Homo sapiens: one gene and its partners. The protein of the gene in region 4 binds, or shares a complex with, the protein of the main gene of each other region. Each region holds a gene or a part of one and is shown on either strand. Other genes may lie near its edges. A codon is read from its position in the direction of its gene.

The links.
Region 1: THOC7 (region 4) and SARNP share a complex: the UniProt entries of both Homo sapiens proteins name them as parts of the transcription/export (TREX) complex.
Region 2: THOC7 (region 4) and DDX39B share a complex: the UniProt entries of both Homo sapiens proteins name them as parts of the transcription/export (TREX) complex.
Region 3: the proteins of THOC7 (region 4) and THOC1 are in contact, whole or in part, in a cryo-EM structure (PDB 7APK), measured with the Homo sapiens proteins. Residues at the interface, in NP_079351.2 of Homo sapiens: Tyr47 (codon at 1,331), Gln51 (codon at 1,343), Leu54 (codon at 1,352), Ser55 (codon at 1,355), Ser58 (codon at 1,364), Gln59 (codon at 1,367), Phe62 (codon at 1,376), Gly65 (codon at 1,385), Lys66 (codon at 1,388), Leu69 (codon at 1,397), Val70 (codon at 1,400), Met73 (codon at 1,409), Arg76 (codon at 1,418), Glu77 (codon at 1,421), Asn80 (codon at 1,430), Ile84 (codon at 1,442), Ile88 (codon at 1,454); in NP_005122.2 of Homo sapiens: Leu10, Arg14, Glu46, Gln53, Arg56, Glu60, Ile63, Ile64, Asp99, Asp102, Cys103, Leu104, Pro105, Arg146, Gln151.

What each region holds. Positions count from the first base shown.
Region 1 is NC_000012.12:55,758,722-55,765,748, forward strand, and holds part of SARNP (SAP domain-containing ribonucleoprotein), read right to left. Parts: intron 1,920-7,027; coding exon 1,830-1,919; intron 1-1,829. UniProt on the Homo sapiens protein: Binds both single-stranded and double-stranded DNA with higher affinity for the single-stranded form. Specifically binds to scaffold/matrix attachment region DNA. Also binds single-stranded RNA. Enhances RNA unwinding activity of DDX39A.
Region 2 is NC_000006.12:31,531,978-31,539,004, reverse strand, and holds part of DDX39B (spliceosome RNA helicase DDX39B), read left to right. Parts: intron 1-149; coding exon 150-242; intron 243-2,321; coding exon 2,322-2,505; intron 2,506-2,555; exon of another isoform or gene 2,556-2,631; intron 2,632-3,519; coding exon 3,520-3,638; intron 3,639-6,093; coding exon 6,094-6,225; intron 6,226-7,027. UniProt on the Homo sapiens protein: Involved in nuclear export of spliced and unspliced mRNA. Component of the TREX complex which is thought to couple mRNA transcription, processing and nuclear export, and specifically associates with spliced mRNA and not with unspliced pre-mRNA.
Region 3 is NC_000018.10:216,023-223,049, reverse strand, and holds part of THOC1 (THO complex subunit 1), read left to right. Parts: intron 1-4,080; coding exon 4,081-4,164; intron 4,165-6,416; coding exon 6,417-6,564; intron 6,565-7,027. UniProt on the Homo sapiens protein: Component of the THO subcomplex of the TREX complex which is thought to couple mRNA transcription, processing and nuclear export, and which specifically associates with spliced mRNA and not with unspliced pre-mRNA.
Region 4 is NC_000003.12:63,833,366-63,839,828, reverse strand, and holds the end of THOC7 (THO complex subunit 7), read left to right. Parts: intron 1-55; coding exon 56-173; intron 174-1,329; coding exon 1,330-1,457; intron 1,458-1,766; coding exon 1,767-1,853; intron 1,854-3,470; coding exon 3,471-3,528; intron 3,529-4,438; coding exon 4,439-4,505; intron 4,506-4,605; coding exon 4,606-4,675; intron 4,676-5,629; coding exon 5,630-5,697; 3' UTR 5,698-5,959; downstream 5,960-6,463. UniProt on the Homo sapiens protein: Component of the THO subcomplex of the TREX complex which is thought to couple mRNA transcription, processing and nuclear export, and which specifically associates with spliced mRNA and not with unspliced pre-mRNA.

The DNA of each region.
Region 1 (7,027 bases), on a different chromosome or scaffold from region 4:
GCTGTTTAAGGCCTTCCACCATGATTGTAAGCTTCCTGAGGCCTCCCCAGAAGCCAAGCAGATGCCAGCACCATGCTTCCCATAAAGCCTGCAGAAATGTAAGCCAATTAAGCCTCTTTTCTTCATAAGTTACCTAGTCTCATGTATTTCTCCTTTACAGCAATGCAAGAACAGCCTAATATACTTTTTTTTTTTTTTTTTTTGAGACAGTCTTGCTCTGTTGCCCAGGCTGGAGTACAGGGGTGCCATCTGGGCTCACTACAACCTCCACCTCAGCCTCTGGAGTAGCTGGGACTACAGGCACATGCCACCACACTCAGCTAATTTATTTTAAACTTTTAGTAGAGATGAGGTCTCACTATGTTGCCCAGGCTAGTCTCCAACTCCTGACCTCAAGTGATCCTCCCACACTGCTCTCCTAAAGTGCTGGGATTCTTTCATTTTGAGAAACTATCTGTAAACAAAGTGACAAGAACAGGAAGTCTCATTTGAGTCCACTGTCCTTTTCCAGAAATGAGTTAGGCACAACCAGTTCTTATTAAATATTTTAAAACTATCCCTTTTTATACAGAATCGTTTCACTCTTTAAATAAAACTTTGAGGTAGGTTTTATTATCTCCACTTCCTAGATGATGAAACCTGAGGCTCAGGAAGTACTGTAACTTATTAATACTAAGTGGCAAAGCCTTTTTCTTTTCTTTTTTTTTTTTTTGAGAGCAAGTCTCACTCTGTAGCCCATGTTGGAGTGGCGTGATCTTGGCTCACCGCAACCTCTGCCTCCCGGTTTCAAGAGATTCTCATGCCTCGGTCTCCAGAGTAGCTGGGATTACAGGCACATGCCACTGCACCTGGCTAATTTTTTTAAATAAGTAAATAAATAAATAAATAAATGTATTTTTAGTAGAGATGGGGTTTCACCATGTTGGCCAGGCTGATCTTGAACTCTCGACCTCAGGTAATCTGCCTGCCTCAGCCTCCCAAAGTGCTAGGATTATAGGCGTAAGCCACCATGCCCGGCCGCCTTTTTCTTTTTTGAGACAGGGTCTCACTCTATTGCCCAGGCTGGAGTACAGTGGCGCCATCCAGGTTCACTGCAGCCTTGACCTCCTGGGCTTAAGTGATCCTCCCATCTCAGCCTCCTGAGTAGCTGGGACTATAGGTGTGTGCCACCACGCCTAGCTAATTTTTGTATTTTTAGTAGAGACAGGGTTTCTCCATGTTGCCCAGGCTGGTCTCAAACTCCTGGGCTCAAGAGATCTGCCTGCCTCAGCCTCCCAAAGTGCTAAGATTACAGGCATGAGCCACCACACCCAGCCCAGAGCCAATTTTAGAATCCAAGCCTACCTGATTCCAAACGTTATACTCTTTGCCACTAGTCTAACAGACTCTAACACTGAATTAAGTATATTGATGGAATTCAGTGTTGCCACTTCACCCAGAAAAAAAGTTATCAAGAAAAAAGCAAAATATTTGGACACTTAAGAAGTAGGTGGGTGGCCAGACATAGTGGCTCATGCCTATAATAATCCCAGCAATTTGGGAGCTGAGTGCAGAGGATCGCTTGAGCCCAGGAGTTTGAGACCAGCCTGAGCAACAGAATGAGACCCCATCTCTACTTAAATAAATAAATAATTAAGAAGTAGGTGGGAAAACAGTGTTTCTCTACTCAGTTTATTCACTCTCACTTCCTGGGCAACAGAGACCCCAACTCGACTTAAATAAGTAAATAAATAAATAAATAAATAGGTGGGGAAACAATATTTCTCCATTCAGTTTATTCACTCTAATTTCCCTTCAAGGTCTATGAAGCGTTCCAGGTATATTTTTACCTCTGTATCCTCTGTGGTTCCAGTTCCAGCTGAACTTGTGACAATCCCAAATCGCTCCTTCCTCTTTTTCAGTTTCTCATCATCTTCAGACTGTTCAAGGACAAAGGAAAGAGTTGAAACAAACTAGCCTCCATTCACCAAGTAAATGGGAATGAAATGATAACTTATTGGTCACAAGGTGCTAACCAACCCTGTGCCAAGAACTAAGGATCACATAAAGAGATAAGATACATAAGAAACTGAATAAGCTAGCATATACTATGTTGTACCTAGAATGACTAAAAACTTAATTTTAGGCAGGGCCTCAATACTCATAAGACAAGTAGGGTAAAGAAACAGTAAGAGGCCGGGCACGGTGACTCACACCTGTAATCCTAGCACTTTGGGAGGCTGAGGCGGGTGGATCAGGCAGTCAGGAGTTCAACACCAGCCTGGCCAAGATGATGAAACCCCATTTCGACTAAAAATACAAAAAAATTAGCTGGGTGTGGTGGCGGGCGCCTGTAATCCCAGCTACTAGGGAGGCTGAGGCAGAGAACTGCTTGAACCTGGGAGGCAGAAGTTGCACTGAGCTGAGATTGCACCACTGCACTCCAGCCTGGGTGACAGAGTGAGACTCTGTCTCAAAAAAAAAAATAATAAATAAAATAAACAGTAAGAAACACCCATAAAACAAATTTCTATGCTCAAGCAATTCTGGCAGTTGAGGGATATGGAAAACTGAGGTTTCACTGAATAACACCCAAAGTTACACCTAGTAACACCTAGTTAGAAGGTACCCAAACTACTTGTTGAACAATGCTTACACGTTACCAAGGAAAGAAAGGGGAAGAGGGCCAGAGTGGTATTTCTGAAAAACTTATTTGCTTGAAACACCCAGCAAAGCCATAGAAGGCTCTGAATAGTTTGAAATGATTCTTAAAACAGGTGAATCAAGGTGACAGCCATGGTCAACTCTCTAAGAGAAATGCTGTGGACATTTTCCAAGCATCTGTGAAACTCATGATGTCTGCCTGGGAATGAGAGAATATTTCAGTTTACCATGAGTTGGAGCTCGCCATTATTCTAGGTGTTTTGTATCATTCATGTCCAACACTGCTCAGTATAAGAGTCTATATATTTTCCTATCAGAACCTAAACCCTACCATTTTATTTAGCCCACTTTAACAGTTATTTTCTCTTTCTCCACCTCCCCCTCACATCTTATCACCAGTCATCAGAAGCTCAGCCTCAGGATTAGAAAACATCTGAAATCAGGTAGGCTCCTCGGGTGTCTTTCCCCCAGGAAGGACTTTCTAAAATTTGGCACATATATAAAAAGATCTCATTCTCTCATAATCTCAAGAGACCCTCTACTCCCTAGAGATGTACCCATCCTCACTAAAGAGCAGGACAGTTTCTTTGACTTTATTTACGTTGTTAACCCAACAGAAGGACAGATAAGCAAGAGTTCAAACAAGGGCACAGTGGCTCACACCTGTAATTCCAGCACTTTGGGAGGCCAAGGCAAGCAGATCACTTGAGGTCAGGAGTTGGAGACCAGCCTGGCCAACATGGTGAAACCCATCTTTACTAAACATACAAAAATTGGCCAAGCATGGCCGCAGGTGCCTGTAATCCCAGCTACTTGGGAGGCTGAGGCAGGAAAATAGCTTGAACCCAGGAGGCGGAGGTTACAGTGAGCTGAGATCATGCCATTGCAGTCCAGCCTGGGTAGACAGAGTGGGACTCCGTCTCCAAAGAGTTCAAACAAACTTTTTTTTTTTTTTTTTTGAGACAGAGTCTTACTTCGTTACCCAGGCTGGAGTGCAGTGGCACAATCTCAGCTCACTGCAACCTGTGCCTCCCAAGTAGCTGGACTACAGGCATGTGCCACCATGCCCGGCCAATTTTGTATTTTTAGTAGAGACGGGGTTTCTCCATGTTGGTCAGGCTGGTCTCGAACTCCCAACCTCAGGTGATCCGCCCACCTTGGCCTCCCAAAGTGCTGGGATTACAGGTGTGAGCCACTGCGCCTGGCCTCAAACAAACTTTTAAAGAATGTCTGTGTGGTGCTTCTGAGCTGGATTTGTTTTTAAATCCCAAGGAAATTATAGTCCTACAGTCTATAGGCAGGCTGTGTCTCTGGGTGTCCCAAAACTACAAGGTCAAAAGCAAAGGTAACAAAAAGACCTACAGAAATATACAGCAATTTTTCAATGCCTCTACTCTCAACCCCAACCAAGGAGTTGTCTTTGTCCCTGTGGCCACAGCAGCCACCTGTACAAATCAAAAGCAGGGCAGCTATCCAGCTTTCTGTGCTCAATTTAACTAGTCCACCTGTCTGAACACAGCAGGCAGGAGTACTGTCTTGGTCTTTAACTCTTTCAGCTTGAGAAAGATGTTCATTTTCTCCCTTTTGCTGCACCTGCTTTCTAGTGAGTAGGAAGAGACCTAAGAAAGAATGATGGTTATGAAGCAATTAAGAATCCTATACAAGTTATCATTTAATCACAGTTTATTACTAGAATAAACTACTGCCTACACAGTTTTTCTGCCTTTCTCATTATGACCACCAGCAAATCCATAGCGGGTACCTCATTAATGTACTCTGAACTATTGTAAAAACATTAAGCCAGGTTCAAAGAAAAACATAAGTATTCTTGTCCTTAATAATAATAAATTAAAATAATAACATTATAGCCATGAACATCTGAGTGCTTAGTATATGCCAGGTACTGTGTGCAGTTCTTTACACATGCAATATCTCATTTACTACTTTTTTTTTTTTTTTTCCCCAGAGACAGAGTCTCGCTCTGTCGCCCAGGCTGGAGTGCAGTGGTGCCATCTTGGCTCAATGCAGTCTCCACCTTCCAGGTTCAAGGGATTCTCCCGCCTCAGCCTCCTGAGTAGCTGGGACTACATGCGCACGCCACCACACCTAATTTTTGTATTTTTAGTAGAGATGGGGTTTCGCCACGTTAGCCAAACTGGTCTCGAACTCCTGACCTCAGGTGATCCGCCCACTTCGCCTTCCAAAGTGTTGGGATTACAGGCGTGAGCCACTGCATCCAGGCTCATTTACTACTTTATTTTAATTTTTGCAGAGAGGGGGATCTCGCTATGTTTCCCAGGCTAGTCTTGAACTCCTGGGCTCAATCAATCCTCTTGCCTCAGCCTCCCAAAGTGCTGGGATTACAGGTGTGAGCCACTGTACCTGGCATCATTTACTTCTTATAATAATCCTATGGAGTAGGCACAGCAATTAAATTCATTTCATAGATAGGAAAATTTAGTCTTGGAGAGATTAAGTGACTCACCCAAAATTTCACAAATAATACGAGGATTGGAATCCAGGACATTTTACTCAGGAATCCACTTTCTTAGCCTTACCACCTCCTCAAGGTATCTCACTTAAGTATTTCTTTGGAAGAACAGTAGGACAATTAAGTGCTTAACTCCCAAGGAGGAAGGATCACTAGAACCCTTAGCTAAAAAAACTTGTAAATTTTAATCACATCACTCAAATAATCAGGTCAAGAATACTAGGACCCCTTCTTCTAACGTACCATATACCTACAATTTATAAGTAACAGTATCTAGGAAAAGGGCTCCAGTTAGTAATCTTGTACTAATGTTTTTCTCAGCTAAATCTGGTTCTAATTTTGCTTAATTGGCTATTCCATTTGTTGAGATGTAATAAAAGAATAAGGGGCTGGGAGCAGTGGCTCACATCTGTAATCCCACCACTTTGAGAAAATCCCAGGAAGGATCTTCTAAAATCCTGAGGTCGGGAGTTCGAGACCAGCCTGACCAACATGGAGAAACCCCGCCTCTACTAAAAATACAAAATTAGCTGGGCGTGGTGGCGCATGCCTGTAATCCCAGCTACTTGGGAGGCTGAGGCAGGAGAAGCGCTTGAACCCGGGAGGTGGAGGTTGCGGTGAGCCGAGATCTCGCCATTGCACTCCAGCCTGGGCAACAAGAGCGAAACTCCATTTCAAAAAAAAAAAAAAAAAGAATAAGGCTGGGCGCAGTGGCTCACACCGGTAATCCCAGCACTTTGGGAGGCCGAGGCAGGCAAATCACAAGGTCAAGATATAGAGACTATCCTGGCCAACATGGTGAAACCCCATCTCTATTAAAAAAAATACAAAAATTAGCTGGGTGTGGTGGCGAGTAGTAGTCCCTACTCGGGAAGCTGAGGCAGGAGAATCACTTGAACCCGAGAGGCGGAGGTTGCAGGGAGCCAAGATCACGCCACTGCACTCCAGCCTGGCAACAGAGCCAGACTCTGTCTCACAAAAAAAAAAAAAAAAAAAAAGGAAGGTTTCCAACAAACATTAAGTCCCACCACATTTTTTACTAACAAAGTCAAGGGGGAAAGTTTCCTTGATCTACTACCACTAAGATAAAGTGAATACGGAATATAAATGGGGATTTCAAGTTGAGAACCTCTAGAATGTTCTAGTTGATATATCTTCACTAAGTCTCCCGGCCAAGTAGGAAACAGTTTTCAGGAAAATAAATGGAGCCTCTCTTCTTGCGGAGAGGCAAGACTAGACCACTATCTTGTTAAACTACCATTATAAACTTTTTTCCATTCAATTTAGCACTAGCAGTACTTCAGCAAGTTCAAATCACAGAGGAGATAAGACTTTTGAAACCCAGACATTATATAAGCACAAACCCTGAGGCCAAGCCCTCCCCCAACGTATGTCCACTTGGAATGTGCGGGCCAGTTTTGCTTCTCCTGGTTCTTTATTTGGCTATATCCTCAAATGGGGAGTCTGATTTCCCCATTAGCCACCTGCCTCGCTGCCCACGTTTTTTAGAGACAGGGCCTCACTCTGTTGCCATGCTGTCGTGCAGTAGCATGATCATGGCTCACTGTAATGTTGAATCCCTGGGCTCAAGTAATCCTCCAACCTTAGCCTCCTCAGTAGCTAAGAACTAAAGGTATGTGCCATGCCTGGCTAATTTTTTTTTTTTTTTAATAGAGACAGGGTCTTGCTATGTTGCCTAGACTGGTTTCAAACTCCCGGACTCAAGCAATCCTTTCACCTCGCCTCCCAAAGTGCTGGGATTACAGGCATGAGCCACCACACCCAGCCTAGCTTCCCTTTTAAACAAGATCTTTGGTGCCTCTTCAGGAGATACAGGCAGAGCATCTGTTCTAAACCCATTAGGGGTTCCAGGGGAAAACAACAACAACAATA
Region 2 (7,027 bases), on a different chromosome or scaffold from region 4:
TTCTGTCGCAAGCGTGGGGTTCATGATTTAGATCACATAATTGAAGTCATTTATTATCGGCCCAGGTGTGTTTTTGTGACAGTCACTTCCCTAGAGGGGATAATGAAGAGCTACATTTACCATATGTCTCCGTCTACTTCCTGCCTAAGGTGTCTGTACTGGTGATGTGTCACACTCGGGAGTTGGCTTTTCAGATCAGCAAGGAATATGAGCGCTTCTCTAAATACATGCCCAATGTCAAGGTAAGCCAAGGTAAAGAGACCTGAGAGTGAGGGTGTGGCAAGTTGGAGGGATAAGAAACTTGTAGGCCAATAGTCTCTTTAATTTTGGAGAAGCTTTAGTTTGCTGTGGTGTAACAGAGTGTTGAGTTCCTATGTAACAGGAGGATTCGTAATTGGGCTATGGATGATGCTTAACACAAGACCACCCTTTTCTTACTACTTTATACTGACTTTGAATCATATCAGTTTAATAATTTTGGGGTATGTGGCAGAGAAAGCCGGAAACTTTAAAACAGCTCCAGTGGTGTGTGAATATTGAGGATTCTGGCCAAGTGCACAATGGCTTACACCTGTAATCTCAGCAGTTTGGGAGGCCAAGGCGTGTGGATTATTTGAGGTCAGGAGTTTAAGACCAATGTGGCCAACAGGATGAAACCCTCTCTCTACTAAAAATGCAAAAATTAGCCGTGCATGGTGGCACACACCTATAGTCCCACCTGCTTGGGAGGCTGAGGCAGGGGAATCGCTTGAACCCAGGAAGCAGAGGTTGTAGTGAGCTGGGATTGTGCCATTACACTCCAGCCTGGGTGGCAGAGTGAGACTCCCATCTCAAAAAAAAAGAAAAAATCTGATTGAAGTTAAGCATTTTTGGCAAGAATCCTTCATAGGTGATACTGTATCTCCTGTTATGCCACAAATCTGGTCGACTTATGTTAGTTATTTTATTTTATTTTTATTTATTTGTTTTGAGATGGAGTCTCGCTGTGTCCCTCAGGCTGTGAGTGTAGTGGCGCGATCTCAGCTCACTGCAACCTGCGCCTCCCACGTTCAAGCGATTCTCCCGCCTCAACCCCCCGAGTAGCTGGGACTACAGTGTGCCATCATGCCTGGCTAATTTTTGTTTTTTTTTAGTAGTGACAGGGTTTCGCCATGTTGGCCAGGCTGGTCTCGAACTCCTGACCTCAAGTGATCCACCCACCTCGGCCTCCCAAAGTGCTGGGATTACAGGAGTGAGCCACTGCACCTGGCCTCATTAATGATTTTAGATTTACCATAGGATTAGCGTCGTGACAGTCTGATTCCACAGTTGTTCTTTTCCCCCTTGAAACCAGAAAGTAGTTTCTGGTGTTATTTGATACTGTACCAAGGCCCAGATCCCCAAACAACTATTCACCTAATGGTTTTAACATGAAATGATAATATTTAGCCCGAAGCAGTAATTTCATGGGGTTTGTGTGAAAAGAGTTTGAGATTCTGGGTTTATTTAGGAAACCTTAATGTTCCATGTGTTTTTTGTGGTACTTTACACTAATCTGGTGATTTCTTGCTGTCCTTTATTTATTTATTTTTTATTTTTTGAGATGGAGTCTCGCTCTGTCATCCAGGCTGGAGTACAGTGGCTCAATCTCGCCTCACTGCAATCTCCACCTCCCGGGTTCAAGCGATTCTCCTGCCTCAGCCTCCCGGCTAAATTTTGTATTTTTTGTTTTTTAGTAGTAAATTTGTAAATTTTGTATTTTAGTAGAGATGGGGTTTCACCGTGTTGGCCAGGCTGGTCTTGAACTCCTGGCTTCAAGTGATCCACTTTCCTTGACCTCCCAAACTGCTGGGATTACAGGCGTGAGCCACTGGGCCTGGCTTTATTTTATTTTTATTTATTTTATTTCTTTTTGAGATGGAGTATCACTCTTGTTGCCCAGGCTGGAGTACAACGGTGGGATCTTGGCTCACCACAACCTCTGCCTCCCAGGTTCTCGTGCCTCAGCCTCCTGAGTAGCTGGAATTATAGGCGTGTGCCACCACACCTGGCTCCTTTATTTTTTAAATGAAGCCTGGCCTCATAAATGAAGGAAGTTGGTTAGATTAAGTCAGTAGAACTGAATTATTGTCCTGACTGCTCCGACTAGCCATGTAACTTTAGGCAATCACCCTCAGTGTTTGGTGGGGGGGACATAAAATTTTTAAATTAGGTGCCCTCTAAAGTTAGTTTTAGTTTGGAAACATGCTAAAAATTGGTTTAGCTCAAACAGAGTGGGAACCCTGGGGGGATTGGACTCTTTCCTTCCTCTGTTTTGAGACTCTTTGCTTCTGGCTCGGCAGGTTGCTGTTTTTTTTGGTGGTCTGTCTATCAAGAAGGATGAAGAGGTGCTGAAGAAGAACTGCCCGCATATCGTCGTGGGGACTCCAGGCCGTATCCTAGCCCTGGCTCGAAATAAGAGCCTCAACCTCAAACACATTAAACACTTTATTTTGGATGAATGTGATAAGATGCTTGAACAGCTCGGTGAGTGGCAGTGCTGGGGCTTGGCTAATGCTGGGGAGTTGTTCTTTGGAGCCAAATGATGTTTATTTGAAACAGGAGCACCTCAGTGCAAGGACGACTCTTATCTATCACCCATGACTGATGGCTCTGGGTTCCCTGGTTGGTCTTTATTATGCTTTTAAGCACAGTAAAGGGTGTCATCTATCATCTTTCTATGATTTTTGTTTTTAACCTTTGAGAATAGGGGACTTTGATAATTTTAGGCATAAGTCATCACCACCACCACCGTTTTCATTATAGATTCATATACTGGGAGTCATAGCGGAGATTCTAAACTGAAAGAGAAGACAGTACCCTTCTGGCATCTCCAGCACAGCATTTACAGTCAGAATTTATAGCTGAATAAGTGTCTAGACTCAGGTCTGGGATTAATGTAGAGAGTGTTTGTAGCAGTTTGTGTGATGTGGTATTCTAGTGTGCCAGGTGGGGTTAATGGAAGATTTTTCTGTAAGAATTGAATCTTGGTGAATGAGAGTGGGGTTGGACATAGGCCCCATAAGTCATTACAAATGATCTTTGGCAATTCTATATGGTGAGCTATAAAGGTGGGCTCCAGGTAGGGATGTCATATTTGCCTGACTTGATAGAAAAGTAATCCAGAGAGTCATAGATGGACTCTGATATCTGGAATATAATATGTGCTTGATATTTGTAGTCTGCTGAAGGCTGGCTGGGGCTTGGGCAGGAAAGGGTTGGGAGAAGGTCCCATAAAGCATGTTTTGAAGGCCTTGAGAGCCTCTGCACTGGGCTTTATCCCCATTTCATAGTTGGGAACTTTGGGGTTTTACCTTATTTCTTGCTTGGTTAAAACAAACAGCTGGAATCTGATCCCACTTCTTGATTCCAAGTCCATTGCTCTTTCCATTGTGTTGTTACTATTTCCAGCAATCTTCACCTCACTGGGAAGTCTACCTCTAATCTTTGTTTATCATACCTGCTTATTTTCTCCTACAATTTTTTTCCTTGTTCTTGTAGACATGCGTCGGGATGTCCAGGAAATTTTTCGCATGACCCCCCACGAGAAGCAGGTCATGATGTTCAGTGCTACCTTGAGCAAAGAGATCCGTCCAGTCTGCCGCAAGTTCATGCAAGATGTAAATACCCTTCTACCTTCTCTCCCTCCACTCCCCGCCCGCTGCCTCCTCCCCTTCCTCGCCCTCTTCCTCAGACTCCCTTGTCATTCAAGTGCCAAGAAGGCGGCTTGTGCCCAACTGGGAGTAATGACTCCTTGAAGAGACATACAGAAGCAGAGACAGCTAGTGTTAGGGCCTGCGCGGGTGCCAGGGAAACTCCGGAAGACTTGGTCGGGTTAATGTGAGAGCGGGTAGTGTTCGACTTTTTCATAAATCACAACATTTTTGAACCTCTTCTCCCTTTGGGGGAGGGCAGGATTTTTCTGCCCTACCACCCACCCATCCATCGTCTCTTACATGCACCCTACAGCCACGCACCCTCAAGGTGGCATCGAGCGTACAGCTGGAGCCTTCTGCTCACCAAAACTCCTACTTCCCGGTGGCAGGAGAGCAAGAGAGGGACAGACAGATGGCAGGGCATGTCCAAAAGAAGAGCATCAGCACAAATGAATCCTCCCCTTCCCCACCTCCAGGGGTGGGGGCCTTTGGCACCTCAATCCCCGATACCCTACTCCTTCCCACCCACATCTCCTTGCACCCATCTGGAACCTCGGTTGATGTGAGCCGGCAACAGAGAAGCACCGTGGCGCGGCGAGGGAATGCAGACGGCACCCAGCGGTGGATGGCGGCAGCGGAGGCCGCGGGGAAACCTGACCAGGAAGCTGAGGACCAAACCAGCCTCTTTTTCCGTTCCCGGTTTTTTTCCTGAACCCAACGCGTGCCGTGCCCCGTTTCCCCCAATATGTGTTGGGGAGGGGTGTCCTGAATGGGGTGGTAGATTTTTTTTCTTAAAAAAATTTTTTTGTTTTTTTTAATACTCAGAGGAGAGGGACATAGGAAAGGTAAAGTGGATGTAATCGGGTGGTTGTTAGGGTTTGGGGCTAGGTGGGGCCAATTGCATAAGCAGTGGAGTGTGTTCTTCCCCTCCCTGCAGTGTTCCTTCCCGTGGGATGATCACTCTTTAGCTGTATTTGGGGCTAGAATGAGATTTGAAGGAGGCCATGGAACTTCTCTTTAGAAAGCCTGCCTTGGCTGGGCCTGGTGGCTCACCTCTAATCCCAGCACTTTGGGAGGCCAAGGTGGGAGGATTGCTTGAGCCCAGGAATTTGAGACTAGCTGGGGCAGTGTAGTGAGACTTTGTCTCTACCAGAAAAACCGGGCGTGGTGGCGCATGCCTGTAGTCCCAGCTACTTGGGAAGCTGAGGCAGGAGGGTTTGCTTGAGCCCGGGACGTGGAGGTGGCAGTAAGCTGTAATTGTGCCACTGTACTCCAGCCTGGGTGATAGAGAGAGACCCTGTATCAAAACAAAACAAAAAACAAAACCTGCCTTCTGGGATTGGGCTTCTGGTTTTTTTCCCATGACACACGCATCCTTTCCTATTTTGTCCTCTGGGTCTTCATATTAACTATCTTCCCCCAGGATAGTATAAAAAGTGTTAGGAAAGTTGGGCTTTGGAGTTGTGGTAATTTCTGTCTTTGTTACTTTCCTCCCCTTCAGGGGGTTTTTTAATTTTAAAGATGAATGCAGTGAGGTATAATGGTGTGTGCCTGTAGTCCCAGCTATTCAGGAGACTGAAGCAGGAGGATCACTTGAGCCCAGGAATTTGAGGCTATAGTGTGCTATGATTGTGCCAGTGAATAGCCACTGCACTCCAGCCTGGGCAACATGGTGAGATCCTGTCCCTTAAAAGTGTATCTGCTGCTCTGAATTTGGTATTTTAACACCACTTACTGATACCTTTCCTGTAAACCTGTAGATGGTTTAATTCTTAGTCAAGAGACCAGTCTCATCTAAAACTATCCTGTTGTGGTCTGACGGCAAGTAACTCATCTTGAGTAATTTTTGTTTCTCCTTAAGTGGCATTTTGACTGTCCATTGCAGCATTCTGATCTTAAAAGACATCCACTTTGCTAATGCACACGAGATTCTCTTAGTTGAAGTAGGAGAATCAAATGGAGCAGTTGTCCTCCCCCCACCCCATGTTCTTAGAAGCACCTCTGATGGAGTTATTCTGACCTTGAGTCACTGCCTCCCATCATTTCCCAGATGTTTGGTCCTTGCTCTCCCTTTGAGAATCATCTCCCATTTTCTTTCCTCTCCCACCTCTATTTGAGGTAATGGCATCTGTGCCATTGGGTGGTTTCACTGCTCCTTGACTTCATTTGCAGTTTCTTTCCCATGATAGTTTTTAGTTGGGCAGTCTTAAAACTCATCTGATAGGAAGGAAATTAGATGTAATGTGAGAGAGACCACAGTAAAATGTGGGTATTTTTGGGAGTGGGGTGGGGTTTTCAATCTTCTCTTTCCTCCCCATCCCCCCATGGGGTGTATTGGAGATCAACTTCCTCCACCCCCCCAGGTTTAACCCCCCCACTCTGCCCTCCTCCCGTTCCCCACCCCCTTCCTCCCCCCCAGCCAATGGAGATCTTCGTGGATGATGAGACGAAGTTGACGCTGCATGGGTTGCAGCAGTACTACGTGAAACTGAAGGACAACGAGAAGAACCGGAAGCTCTTTGACCTTCTGGATGTCCTTGAGTTCAACCAGGTCAGTTAGACGTCCAGTAGGGGGATGAGCATTGGAGCACTCCAGCTGTAGCAGAAACCTGGATATTAAGTACACTTTTATTGAGGAAATCACATGTGTGATGTGGGAGAGAATAATGAGGGTATAAATATCTTAGGGGCTGAGCATGAGTAAGGTGGGAGCTGCTTTTCTATTCTATGGCTGGCACGGGTATGTCCTCAATAACCTCAAGGAAAATAAACTTCAAAAATTAAGATCCTTGGCCAGGCACGGTGGCTTATGTGTGTAATCCCAGCACTTGGGGAGGCTGAGGGAGGTGGATCACTTGAGTCCAGGAGTTTGAGACCAGTCGGGGCAACATGGCGAAACTTCATCACTACCAAAGAAGAAAAAAATTAGCCAGGTGTGGTGGTGTATGCCTGTAGTCCCAGATACTCTGGTGGCTGAGGTGAGAGGATAGCTTGAGCCCAGGAAATTGAGGCTGCAGTGAACTATGATTGCACTACTGTGCTCCAGCTTGGGCAACAGAGTGAGATCTTGTCTCCAAAAGTCCTTGAAGGATTTTAGGAAGTTGTTAAAAGTCTTGAAACGATGTTTGGGGGCATGTTAGGGTTCTTGAATGTTTAATTCCTCTAATAACTGCTTATTCAAGAGAAGCATTTCTGACTGGGTGCAGGGCAGTGGCTCATGCCCATAATCCCAGTACTTTGGGAGGCTGAGGCAGGAGCATTGCTTGAGCCCAGGACTTCAAGACCAGCCTGGGTAACATAGGGAGACGCCCGTCTCTACAAATAGTAAAAATAAAAAATAAAAAAAGTAGCTG
Region 3 (7,027 bases), on a different chromosome or scaffold from region 4:
AATGGGTTAATTAATGATTAAGAAATCACCCAGAAAGCAATACAGAAGGAGCAGAGTTAGAAACGATGACTTAATGATAGTTGAGGAGGTCCAGCAAACATCTGATGGCAGAAAGAAATAATAGAGAATGGGAAAGAGGCAATAATTGAGTTAATTATTAAGAATAGGCATGAATTCATAGGTTCAAGAAGTATAATACTTAAGGAGGATAAACCAAATAAATCCATATCTCTGTACATGATAATAAAGTCACCAGAGAGAAAAAACAGACAACCTACAAAGGAGCAAAGTTAAACTAACAGTTGACTTCAAGAACAACAAAAATCAGAAGACAGTGGGATGAGTGCTTGAAAATGTCTTTCACATTCTCTATTATTTCTTTCTGCCATTAGATGTTTGCTGGACCTCCTCAACTATCATTAACTCATCGTTTCCAACTCTTGCTCCTTCTGTATTGCTTTCTGGGTGATTTCTTAATCATTAATCCAGTAATTCTTACTTTCCCTATGTCCAGACTGCTGTTAAACCTGCTCGTTTTGTAAATTCAATGACTATATTTTCTCATTTCTAGAAGTATTACTTGCTTTTTCAACATTTCAACTAAAAAATTCTGTAACAAGTTAAACAGTTGTGGTTGAGTGATTGACTAAAACTATGAGAAATTATCAACAGTCCCCAGTAAAAAAGCTGTCTTAAGGAAACTGAACCCAGAAAGGAGTAAATTGCAGAAAGGATTACTGTGTAGACACTTTGGTAAACATGAAGAAATCTGAATAAATCTTATCAAGAATTCACTGTTATAAAATAGTAATAATTATTATTTAGGGTTATTTTAAAAGGTAAACTTGATAAAAGTGACATGTAAGACAAGAAGGGGTGGTCAGAATTAAAGAATGTTATGGTTTAAGTCAAACATGCTTGTAAAGTATGTGAAAGAAATGGAATATGTAATTTTTAAATAAATTGAGGGGTAAAAGTAAATACAGAAAATTTAAGCAAGTAAATTAGAAGGTAGGAGAGGAGGAAAAAAGCACAGAAAACACAACAGAAAGTACAAAACAGTATGGTTAAATTCAAATATAAATGGAAATGGACTTTCTGGCTCAAAGACAGAAATTGGTGTTATATTTTAAAGATCTATCGGCCAGGCGCGGTGGCTCATACCTGTAATCCCAGCACTTTGGGAGGCCAAGGCGGGCGGATCATGAGGTCAGGAGATAGAGACCATCGTGGCTAACACGGTGAAACCCCGTCTCTACTAAAAATACAAAAAATTAGCCAAGTGTGGTGGCAGGCGCCTGTAGTCTCAGCTACTTGGGAGGCTGAGGCAGGAGAATGGCGTGAACCTGGGAGGCGGAGCTTGCAGTGAGTCGAGATCGCACCACTGCACTCCAGCCTGGGCGACAGAGCGAGACTCCGTCTCAAAAAAAAAAAAAAAAAAAAGATCCATCTATATGTTTATAAGAAATATACCTTAAAAATAAAGATATGGAAAGGTTGAAACTGAAAGAACTTTTAAAAGACGTAATTTTTAAAAGGCATAGTTATATTGATATCAGGCAGAAAAGGCTTAAAAGCAGAAAGCATTATTAAAAATAAAGGCAATCATTGCATAAAGATAAAAGGAAAAAATAGAAATATACACATTTTAAACTTTATTTTCTAAGAATGTGTTCTCAAAAATTTGACAAAATTAGAATGAGAAGTTGACCCAGGGTCAGTTTTCACCATCCACCACCACCCAGAAAACCTACCATCTAGTAGGATTTTGACAGACCTTTCTCAGAATTTAATAAATTTGGTGGAAAAAACTTAGTGTAATACATTTAGAATTTAACAAAATAATTAACAGGCTTGGTCTTACAGAAACCACAAGTTTTTGTAAATTATGTGTGAATAGCAAAAGCAAAAATACTTACAACTCCTTTAAACACACTTCTAAATAACCCTTGAATCAAAGAAGTCATAATGGAAATTGGAAAATGTAGAGCTAAATAATAATGAAAACACTACATGTTCAGACTTTTGAGATCTAACTCAGTAGAACACAGAAGAGAAATGTATAGCCTTAAGTGTTTACACTTTCAAAAAGAATGAAATCTAAAAACCAAGCTAATAAGAGTCTGACACTGAGAGTCATTCAGAAGAAAAGTAAACTCATAGAAGTAGAAAGTAAAATAAGATTAGAAATCAGTAAAATAGACAACAAACAATAGAGAAGATAACAAAATCAAAAGAGAAGATCAATAAAAACAAAAACCAGGAAAAATAGATAAAATTCTAACATGATTGATTCCTGCCAAATCTGTGAGAGTGAATCAACCCAGTAGAAAAATGTACAAATGAATAGTCAGATTCAGAAGTAGAAACCTTAATAAACCTCTGAGAAGACGGGGAACTTCACTAGTAACTGGAAGTACAGTTAAAAACTACAGCAAGCAGTTTCCAGCTAAGAGATTCAGTAATTTAAAAATACCCAGATTTTATAAGAATTATGGATAAAAATAATTTGCCAGTGCTGCTGGTAGGAGTCTGATGGCACAGTCACTCTATCTGAATGTTAAAGATGTCTGTGCCCCACTAGTAGGTGTGTTGATCAGAATAGTGTTTTTAAAAACTAAGTTTGAGAATCATTGGTGGTTTGTAAAGTCAATTTAGTAATTTCAACTAGCATTTTTTAAATGAAATAGGAAATATACTTTTGTGAAGCATTAGCTTTACTTATATATATCTGTACATATACTTGCATATATGTGTGTACTGGGTTGCAGTGTAAAATGAATTTCTTATTGTGGGTTGCAGTGGAAGTTTGAAGGCCCAGTGCCTAAAGAAATCAGTTCATCTACAAGGAGACAGGTGCAAGAATGTTCATTTAACATTGTCAGAGCAAAGAGTGGGAAGACAAATATCTCTGTGTAGGACATGGATAACTTGGGGCATGTTCATAAAATGGAATATAGTATCTGTAGCATTAGAAAATGAATGGATATTGGGATAGTTTTCTTAAAAGAGCCCATTTTCCTAGTTTTACTCTAGAAGATGTCTTCTGATCCTGAGACCTCATTTCTTTGCTTGACCCTGTATCAAAATTTTATTTCTAAAAACAAATTCAAGAAAGATGCATTTTAAAAATCAACCATGCTACCATGGTAACAATTTAAATAAGAGCTAAAGGTTAAACCCTTGAAATCGTATTATGGTCTGATTATTAGTTTTGGTTTAATTCTGGTTTAAAGAAAAAATAATTCGTGGATAGGGACTTAATGTAAAAGTTTATTTGCTGGTAAAATTCAAATGCTATAAAATACCCTGGCTGCCCTCTTTGAATAGCAACATATTTATATATTATAGTGTGTAATTAAAGTATATAATATTATATGTAGTAAATACTATGTAATATTTAGTATTAGACTATCCCCTTTATTTATTGTCCTTTTTGAATTTAGTTTTGACGGTTTTACTTCCTTAAAAGTCTGGAGTTCCCACGTAATCAAAACTGTAACTAAAAGTATGGGGCCATTAGAATCTTGTCCTGCCACCACTTTATGAGTATTTATTATTAAGAGTATATGCCATCCTCACTGGTTATTTTGTACCGCTCAGGGAACACATGCCCACAATCTTGTCCTGCCACCACTTTATGAGTATTTATTATTAAGAGTATATGCCATCCTCACTGGTTATTTTGTACCGCTCAGGGAACACATGCCCACAATCTTGTCCTGCCACCACTTTATGAGTATTTATTATTAAGAGTATATGCCATCCTCACTGGTTATTTTGTACCGCTCAGGGAACACATGCCCACAATCTTGTCCTGCCACCACTTTATGAGTATTTATTATTAAGAGTATATGCCATCCTCACTGGTTATTTTGTACCGCTCAGGGAACACATGCCCACAATCTTGTCCTGCCACCACTTTATGAGTATTTATTATTAAGAGTATATGCCATCCTCACTGGTTATTTTTGTACTGCTCAGGGAACACATGCCCACAATCTTGTCCTGCCACCACTTCATGAGTATTTATTATTAAGAATATATGCCATCCTCACTGGTTATTTTTGTACCGCTCAGGGAACACATGCCCACTTTGGAGGAATTCTTTGAAGAAGCCATTGAACAGGCAGACCCTGAAAATATGGTGGAAAATGAATATAAGTAAGTATGCTCCTCATTAGCTCCTTTTAATTTTCTTCAATTTGTTTCTTCCTTAGGAATTGTGTGTATACTAGAAAGCCTCTTAAGAGAGGCAGTAGATAGAATAGTGCTTTTTCTCTTAGGTGAGTTTATGTTCCAAGTTCTTGTTAGTACACATCCTGATTTCAAGGATTATTCCTGTTAACTAAGCATGACTTGGAATCACCCTTGTTTCAAAATATAAGAAAAAAAAAACTCCCCCTGATCCCCATTTCTCTCCAACTATTAGTTCTGTTCTCTCTACCCTTCAAAGCACAGTATCTCACAGCAGCTGTTAACCTATCCTGTTCCCCTTAATGTTTTCTTCTCTTGGCGTCCATGAGAATCCAAATCCATGGTTCTTCTGTTTGCCCTTTGCCCTCGTTGCCCACTCCACCTCACATTCCATTTCAGCCTCCTCATCCTCTGCCTAACTCAAATTTTGGAGTAACATCAGGAATTGGTCTTAGCCTCTTTATCTAGAACCTTCTGGGTGACACCGCAGTCTCATGGCTTTAAATAGGAATTGAAGAGTAGTGGTTTAAAGGCAAGAGGCCTCTGGTCAGAATGCATAGGTTCGATTCCCTCTACCACTTACTTACTAGGCAACTAAGGCTAATTTAATTATTAAACCGCCAGTTCCCTTTCCTCATCTGTTAAATAGTAACAGTACCCATTTCACAGGGTTATTCTGAGGATTAAATAAGACAGTGCACTTTGAACCCTACAGGGCATGTGGTTAGCACTCAGTATTTGTGACTAGTGTGACCCTGTGACCAGAGTTGTTAATTACTGTGACCTCTTAACTAATCTCTCTAGTTGTGGTCAGTGCTCCATGCATCAGCCAGTGATCTTTAAAATAATTGTCCAAGTCTAATCTGCTTAAAATCTCCCAGTGAGTGCCTATTCCAAACTCCTTCCCAGGGCCTAAAAGACCTCCTTGGTCTGGCTCATACTCTCCTGTGTGGCCATGCCTCCCCTCTGCTTTAACCACAGCAGGCCTCTTGGTCCTGTCTTTCCCTTTCCTGTCAGGACCTTCACACTTTACTGTCTCACTTGCTTGAACCACTTTTTCCCCAAGGTTGCCGTGGCTTAAAGTCCCCCTGGCTGGGAAGCTCTTCCCCTCCCTGGTCTCCTCTTTTGCATTCTCGTGGTTTTTATTTCACGGCACTTACCACTATCCAAATGAGAAGGTGGCACTTACCACTTTCTCATTTCTCAAGTTTTCCTCATCCTTATGAAATTGTCTTATACCTTGTGTGTTTATCACTAGCAATGCCTGCCTTACTGTGCCTCAGGTACTCTCCACAGCTACTGAGTGCCTGGCTCAAAAGTGTTTGTCGATTGAAAGAATATTAATTTATCACTGTTACATAAGACTAGGTGGACTCATTCCTAAAGTGATAGTTCAAATTATTATCTCCAAAGAGGGTTTTGTGGAGAATAAGAAAAATGATGTGTATAATTGACAGTGAATTTTGAAAATGCCTAAAATAATCAAATTGTCTAAACAGATATGTCAGAGAGGAAGGCTCTTAACTGTTTAGGCAAAGCCTCACAGCAGGTGTTAACTTGGGAAGAGTCCCCAGTGTCTATGGGTAGTTTTTGTTAAGTCTTCAGTGGTACCTGCACATCCTAAAGGTAACATATGCTTATTTATAAGAGGTGACCAAATAAACCAAATTGCTATTCTTAGGGGAGGAAGAGACTTCCAATCCAAAACTCTTAAATGGAATAAATTTGTGGTTTGGTTTCTTCCGCAGCATTGCATATTTCTGACGCATTATCTTTAGAATTTCTCTGCAGTTTGTTTCTCACCTGATGGTATACCACCCTGATCATTGTTATACTTCATTAGGGAACAGTTCATGGATTCCAAATAGCTAGATGGATGATTCCTGTTGTATACGTACTGCATCCAGCCAGTACTGCACACACTTGTTGACTTGTTAAAATTAAACAAAATGAACGGAAACTTTGAAAATGTGTTTGCTGCATATGAGCCTGCCTCTTCAGGCATTGTTGGTTCCTGTGATTAGTTACATGTGCATCTATTGGTTTGTTATTATCAGTGGACTACATACTGAAAAGTTCTTTAGGAATAAGATTCAAATACAAAGAATGGCACTTTGAGCTATTTACCTTAAATACAGAATTACACATGGCAGAACTGAGCAGAAGGGAATACAGAAATACAAAGCTATAAATTACAAGCCTGACACCTCTTTTTATAGGGCTGTGAACAATTCAAATTATGGTTGGAGAGCCCTGAGACTATTAGCACGGAGAAGCCCTCACTTCTTCCAGCCAACCAACCAGCAGTTTAAAAGTTTACCAGAATATCTTGAAAATATGGTAATAAAGCTAGCCAAGGAATTACCGGTAAGTACCATAGATCAACTTTTCATACCCTTTAGTTGACATCTTCTTTAAAATTGCTGTCACTATGTGAGCAAAAAACTGACTTAATCATGTGAAAAACCAGTGATCCACAAGCTCCCATGTTTTAGAATGAGGGAAAAACACATTGGAATATACATTTACAGGAAATACATGAGTTGATAAAGAAGTAACTGATAATTTTCTGTACAGCATGTAATTTAAAGTTCAACAGGGCTGTGGGTGCGGTGGCTCACGACTGTAATCCCAGCACTTTGGGAGGCCGAGGCGGGTGGATCATGAGGTCAAGAGATTGAGACCATCCTGGCCAATATGGTGAAACCCCGTCTCTACTAAAATATAAAAAATTAGCCAGGTGTGGTGGCACGTGCCTGTAGTCCCAGCTACTCAAGAGGCTGAGGCAAGGGAATTGCTTGAACCTGGGAGGCGGAGGTTGCAGTGAGCC
Region 4 (6,463 bases):
TTGTACTTGAAAGTTACCAAGAGCCAGATGGTAACATTGCCCTTCTTTCCTGCAGACGAAGTTATACGGAAGCGTCTCCTCATTGATGGAGATGGTGCTGGAGATGATCGGAGAATTAATCTGCTAGTGAAGAGTTTCATTAAATGGTGCAACTCTGGGTCCCAGGAAGAGGGGTATTTCATTTTCACTGTTGTTTCCATACCAGTGTCCTAATGTGATTTTAGGCCCTATATTAAGGTCCTGTGAGTAGATCAAATTTTCACTCACCTTAAATGTACAGTGGAGTCAACTCTTAATTAACCAAGAGTAGATTTTCTTGGCCTTTTCTTCTCTTCAAAGGCCTCTCATATGTTTATTAAAACATGGAGAAGGCAGATTGGTAAGGAGAAATGAAGATTAAATTCAGACTCATTAGTTTGGTTACTTTTAGGACATAAGTGTTTAGTAAGATAAAATATCTAAATGGAATTTTCTCCTTTGCTAATAAAAGGCTGCTGCTATGTATGTATATATTAAGTTGGTGCAAAATTAATCGTGATTTCTGCCATTAACTTTAATGGCAGAAATGGCAGAAACCACGATTACTTTTGTACCAACCTGATACACACGCACACACGTATATCTAATCTTTTTTTTTGTGAGACAGAGTCTCATTCTGTTGTTCAGGCTGGAGTGCAATGGCACAATCTTGGCTCACTGCAACCTCCGCCCCCCAGGTTCAAGCAGTACTCGTGCCTCAACCTCCTGAGTAGCTGGGATTATAGGCATGCAACACCATGACTGACTAATTTTTGTATTTTAGTAGAGATGGGGTTTCACCATGTTGGCCAGGCTGGTGTCAAACTTCTAGCATTAAGTGATCTGCCCACCTTGGCTTCCCAAAATTCCAGAATTACAGGCATGAGCTACCACGCCTAACTATATTTATTTATTTTTTAACATAGCAAACTTTTTCTCATTTGAATTTGCTTTCCATATAAATAATTTTATAGAGTGAAAAAATTGTGGGAACAGAATTGTGAAGTTAAAAAAACATCTTAAAGTATTTCTAAAGTCTTTTAAACAAAATTCAAATAATTGTTTGAATAAAATGTGCATTGATAAGAACAACAATCCCACCTTTGCATTTGTAACTAAAGTAGTTAAATTCAAGAATACTACATTTGATAAAAAGAAAACTTAAGGGACAGATATTCTAAATTTTAAATAAGCAAATGATTCTCTCAGAACTTGCTATAATTTAATTAGCAAATATTTGTCTGCATTATAACAGTTCACTTTTGTCAGTCCACAAATATCTTTATTTTGGTTTTCTTTCTTTTTCATTAGATATAGCCAGTACCAACGTATGCTGAGCACGCTGTCTCAATGTGAATTTTCAATGGGCAAAACTTTACTAGTATATGATATGAATCTCAGAGAAATGGAAAATTATGAAAAAATTTACAAGGAAATAGGTAAAGAATCTTAATGTTTCTATCTGTAATTTTATTTTTTATGGTCTAAAGGAAACAATACCTGCTAACAATTTTCTTTGGTGGTAAAAGAATAATAACAATTACTGTATTAATGGAAAGAATACAGTAAATGTTAGCTATAAAAAATGTGTATTCTAAGATGATATAGTACTTTGGGTTACAGCTATTTTTTAAAAATACTAGTGTCTATTTTGTTACCAATAGAGGTTAATTTATAAATGCGTTTTAAAATTAAAAATGGATTATTGATTTTGTTACAACTATCTTTTAAAAAACCTTCTCATATAGAATGTAGCATAGCTGGAGCACATGAAAAAATTGCTGAGTGCAAAAAGCAAATTCTTCAAGCAAAACGAATACGAAAAAATCGCCAAGGTAAGGGTTTTGAGGGATTTAATGTGCAAATACATTATTACTGACTACAGTTTTCATGCAGTTTTTAATGTTGTGAGGTAAAATCTGCAGCCTGAATCAACCTGGATTAAAAAAAATCCAAATTTTAATTCCTTAAAACTATATTATTCTTTAAAATAGAGAAGGAAGTCTGTGTTGAGAAGAATGTTTTTGCTGGATTACATTGATTATCCAAGTATTTCTTTTCTGTTTTTCTCTTTTTTTTTCTTATCCCAGTATTTCTTAAGTATTAAATTTTTACCATCTTGGACCCTTTTGCCTAAATAATGTTATGGTTAATCAGCAGAGGCAATTTACATAAATATACTAGATTTATGGTTTGGGTTTTTTGTTTGTTTGTTTAATAGAGCTACTTTCCAAAAAATGAAATGGAAAAGAATTTAAACTCTGAGTTTTCATTAAGTACAAAGCAAGCAAACATTTCTAGACTGCCTAGAATATCTAATAAGAAGGTTAAAGTTGAGTTTTGTTATAATCTCTTGTTTTTAAGTTAGAGTATACCCTTATGTAGTTCCTAAATACTATTTCAAGATAATTTTTAATGTTAGAGGCACTGCTCTTCTTATAATGTAAATTGAAGAAAAGTAAAAATAAAAAATATAATGTGTAATCACAACTGTTACATTGATATGAAAAACTAGAAGAAAATAGAAAATGTTAATGGTTATTTTGAAGTTGTGGGTTTTTATGGCTTAGGTTCTTTTCTCTGTTTTTGTGTTGTTTTGTTTTGTTTTACATAGGGCATGTATTATTTTGTAATTCAAAAAATTTGTATCCAAAAGAATCATACTTTGAATTAATATGCTCAGTTCTAAAACAATGAATTTTCACTTTTTAATGAACTAATTAAGATGAAGCTTAATTTCCTCTTTTTACAAGTTTTTTTTTTCAGTTTAAAATGTGTATGGTGAAGTTTTGGTGCCTTATTTACAGTAACATATACCAACTTAGTATCAGTTCTAAAGTCATCTAAAAATATTTTGCAGTGTTTTCGTTGGTTAATGAGGCTTTTAAGTAAATCCTGCCACTCATCACTTCATAAGAAAGCTTAACAGGAGTTACATGACTTATCTTGGAGGTCTCAGTGGAGCAGAAAATAGAACCTGAATTTTAAGTTATTTGCAAGTTTCTGAAATCTTAACTTTTGGAATGAGTGAGAAGTGTAATTTGCTGTTGACTAACAACTCAGATTAATGGTAGGATATATTCACTGATTGTATTTTATTTTATTTTACTTTTTGGACAACTAGTGAGTAAGATCCTTCTCAGAATCAGTCTATTTGATAATCAATAATAACTTAAATTTGCTTATGCTTATGCTGACCTCTTACGTTCTGTCCAGGACATATAAATGGAAAAAAAGTGGGAGCTAAAACCCCTGTTTGGAACACTTTTGATGTTATGTATCGTTATAATTATAACTCAGTTAACTAAAACTGGCAATACTCATCTTTCAGTGATTTCATTTCTTGATGTACTAGGAAAGTGATTAGGAGAGGTTTGTGATATTACACATTTTGTTTTGATAATTCACATTCAAAAAATCCTTAGTTTGATAAATATTTTTATGTCTTACAGAATATGATGCTTTGGCAAAAGTGATTCAGCACCATCCAGACAGGCATGAGACATTAAAGTAAGTGTAGAGCTTTACTTTGAAAGGAACTAACCTTTATACATAAATGCTCGAAAACTACCGTAGGCATTTCATTTTTGCAGAAATAAATATGTTTCAAAAGGAGGGGTCAGATATTCAATATTATATTTTCCCATACTTCTCTGTTAGATTTTATTTTCCTCTAACCTTACCAGCTATATGTCTAAAATAAATGCATATAATATGCATCAATATCACAATGGATAAATAGAATATGGTCTTCATATATTAAAATATTGAATTTCAGTTAAAAAGAATAAACTAGTTATGCCCTTTTAAAACACAGCTCTCAAAACATAATCAGTGAAAAGACACATAATAAACTTTAAATTATATTTAAATTCCTGAAACACATACAGAATAATAACCATTTATAAAAGTTAGAACCCCCTTTCAAATATTATATACCAATACTGTGTATTATTCAGGGATACAAGTATATGCATAAAAAAGAATAAGAATGATATAGTAGTTGCCTGAGTGGGAGGTAGAGGAGATAAAAAGGCCCAGGATAGAGGACTAGGCGTAAGATTCAAAGGGTATTTCGAGTTAATTGGCAATGTTTTATTTCTTTTACCAAAATAAAAAACCCTCGAAGTTAAACTTCACAATATGTATCATTTCTTGGGTCTTGTTATTCTGTTATCTGTATTTTTCTGTACTTTAAAAATGGATCCAAAAATGTAATTTTAATGAAAGTGAGTCCATATTTAGAAGTTAAGAAGAAATCATCCTCAGCTTTAAAAGTTTCACCATAATGGAGTGTTATAACTCCTTATAAGCCCTTTTTTTATTTTAAAAATCCTATCTAGTAACTTAAAAGTTAGGCATTAATTGTAAACTCTTCTCCCCCATTCAGCAAAATGTAACACTGTTTTATTATTTCCAGGGAACTAGAGGCTCTGGGAAAAGAATTAGAGCATCTTTCACACATTAAAGAAAGTGTTGAAGATAAGGTATTCGCATATATATTTAGCCTTCATGATCTGTCTATCTGTCTGTCTATATATCTATATATACAGGTCATTTGTATAAATTTTTTTCTTGTTAACACAGCTGGAATTGAGACGGAAACAGTTTCATGTTCTTCTTAGTACCATCCATGAACTTCAGCAAACATTGGAAAGTAAGTAGAAATAGTCTCAAAGTAAATGCTTATGAAGATTTTTTAAATGACCCAGGGATGTACCTTTTGAAATATACATCTTGGAGAGACAGTATACCTTCAATTTCTGAACAGTGTAGCTGGATGACGTTAGAAGGTACTCATGTTCAACTTTCTTGAATACATGTAGAAAAGTCTTAATTTGTAGTAATATAGGATTTAAACATATACATAGTGGTTTAAATTAAGAAAAATTCAAGGATGATAGATTTGGAATCTTTCTTGGTTCACTGTAGTTGACTACTATAATATAACAACTCAGGACCCAGGCAGGCAATAATAAGAAATCAGTACATACGAACATTTGCATACCCACTGAGTAGTGGGTGCTTTGGGGAACTGGAGACTTGCTCTTTATATTCACTATAGGCAAGTGGAAATTTTTGTGTTACCTGATCTTCTGATTGTTTTAAAGAATAGCCTAAGACCCATTTTTTCTTTTCTTTTTTTTTTTTTTAAGACAGTCTTGCTCTGTCACCCAGGCTGGAGTGCAGTGGCACAATCTTGGCTCACTGCAATCCTCACCTTGCAGGCTCAAGTGATTCTCCTGCCTCAGCCTCCCTAGTAGCTGGAATTACAGGTGCATGCCACCACACCCAGCTAATTTTAGTATTTTTAGTAGAGACGGGGTTTTACCATGTAGGCCAGGCTGGTCTTGAATTCCTGACCTCAGGTGATCCACCTGCCTTGGCCTCCCAAAGTGCTGGGATTATAGGCATGAGCCACCAGACCCTGCCTGGATTTTTTTTTTTTTAAGTGAAGTCTATCACATAAATTTTAAAGTTTGATTCAACTAGTAGCCATCTTAGCTTTAATTGTATTGGCTAATAAAGGATAAACATGTTTTCATGTGTTCATCGAATATAAAATATAGGCAAACTTGACTAAGGTTTTATGTTTCCTTCTCAATTACAGATGATGAAAAACTCTCAGAGGTAGAAGAAGCTCAGGAAGCAAGCATGGAAACAGATCCTAAGCCATAGACAGGCTAATTGCCCACCACTCCCAGGAATATTGAAATAGCTACATGACCATAATGTGTTTAAAATGTGGTATGCTCTTGAGATATTTAAAGTTTTGGCAGTAAAATACTCTGTTTTTAAGTATGAATGTATTTCATTCATATTTCCTCTCACAAAGGAAAATGACTTCAGTATAGATTTGTTTTTATTAAAATGCATTTTTTATTCTTAAGTGGTAGGAAGCAACATCCAAAAATGCTTAATAAAATGCTTTTAAGCTGCATATGTTTGTGCTCATTAATATTCTAGGTAGTTTTTAACTGGTAACATTGATTGGCTTACAAAATAAGTTGAAAATTGTTAGAAGTTGGCATTTCTAGGATGTACATGGGAAAATGAGCCAATTTCTGGAAATGGTTACACTTCTGAAAACGGAGTCTATGAAGAGGCTTTAGGAGGACCATGAACCTGTGAAATTACATGCAAAATGTTAGTGGTGTATGCTTATTGTGGAGAGAGGTTCCAGGCTGTTAAAATTCGCTGGTATGGGACGTTAATTATAAGATGCAAAGTAAAATAGTGCACATTACTTTATATATCTCTCCTTAATATGAGAGGAATATGGTTCTCAAATGTTTTGTTGATCTGTTTTCTCTACTGTTTTGTTCTTTAGGAATCATTTTCAATAGAAAAAGATGTATTGATAAAGTGAAGAGTGTTTGAAGTAAATAGTTTGTTAAGATTGTTTTGCGTAGGCCAGGCATGGTGGCTCACACCTTTAATCCCA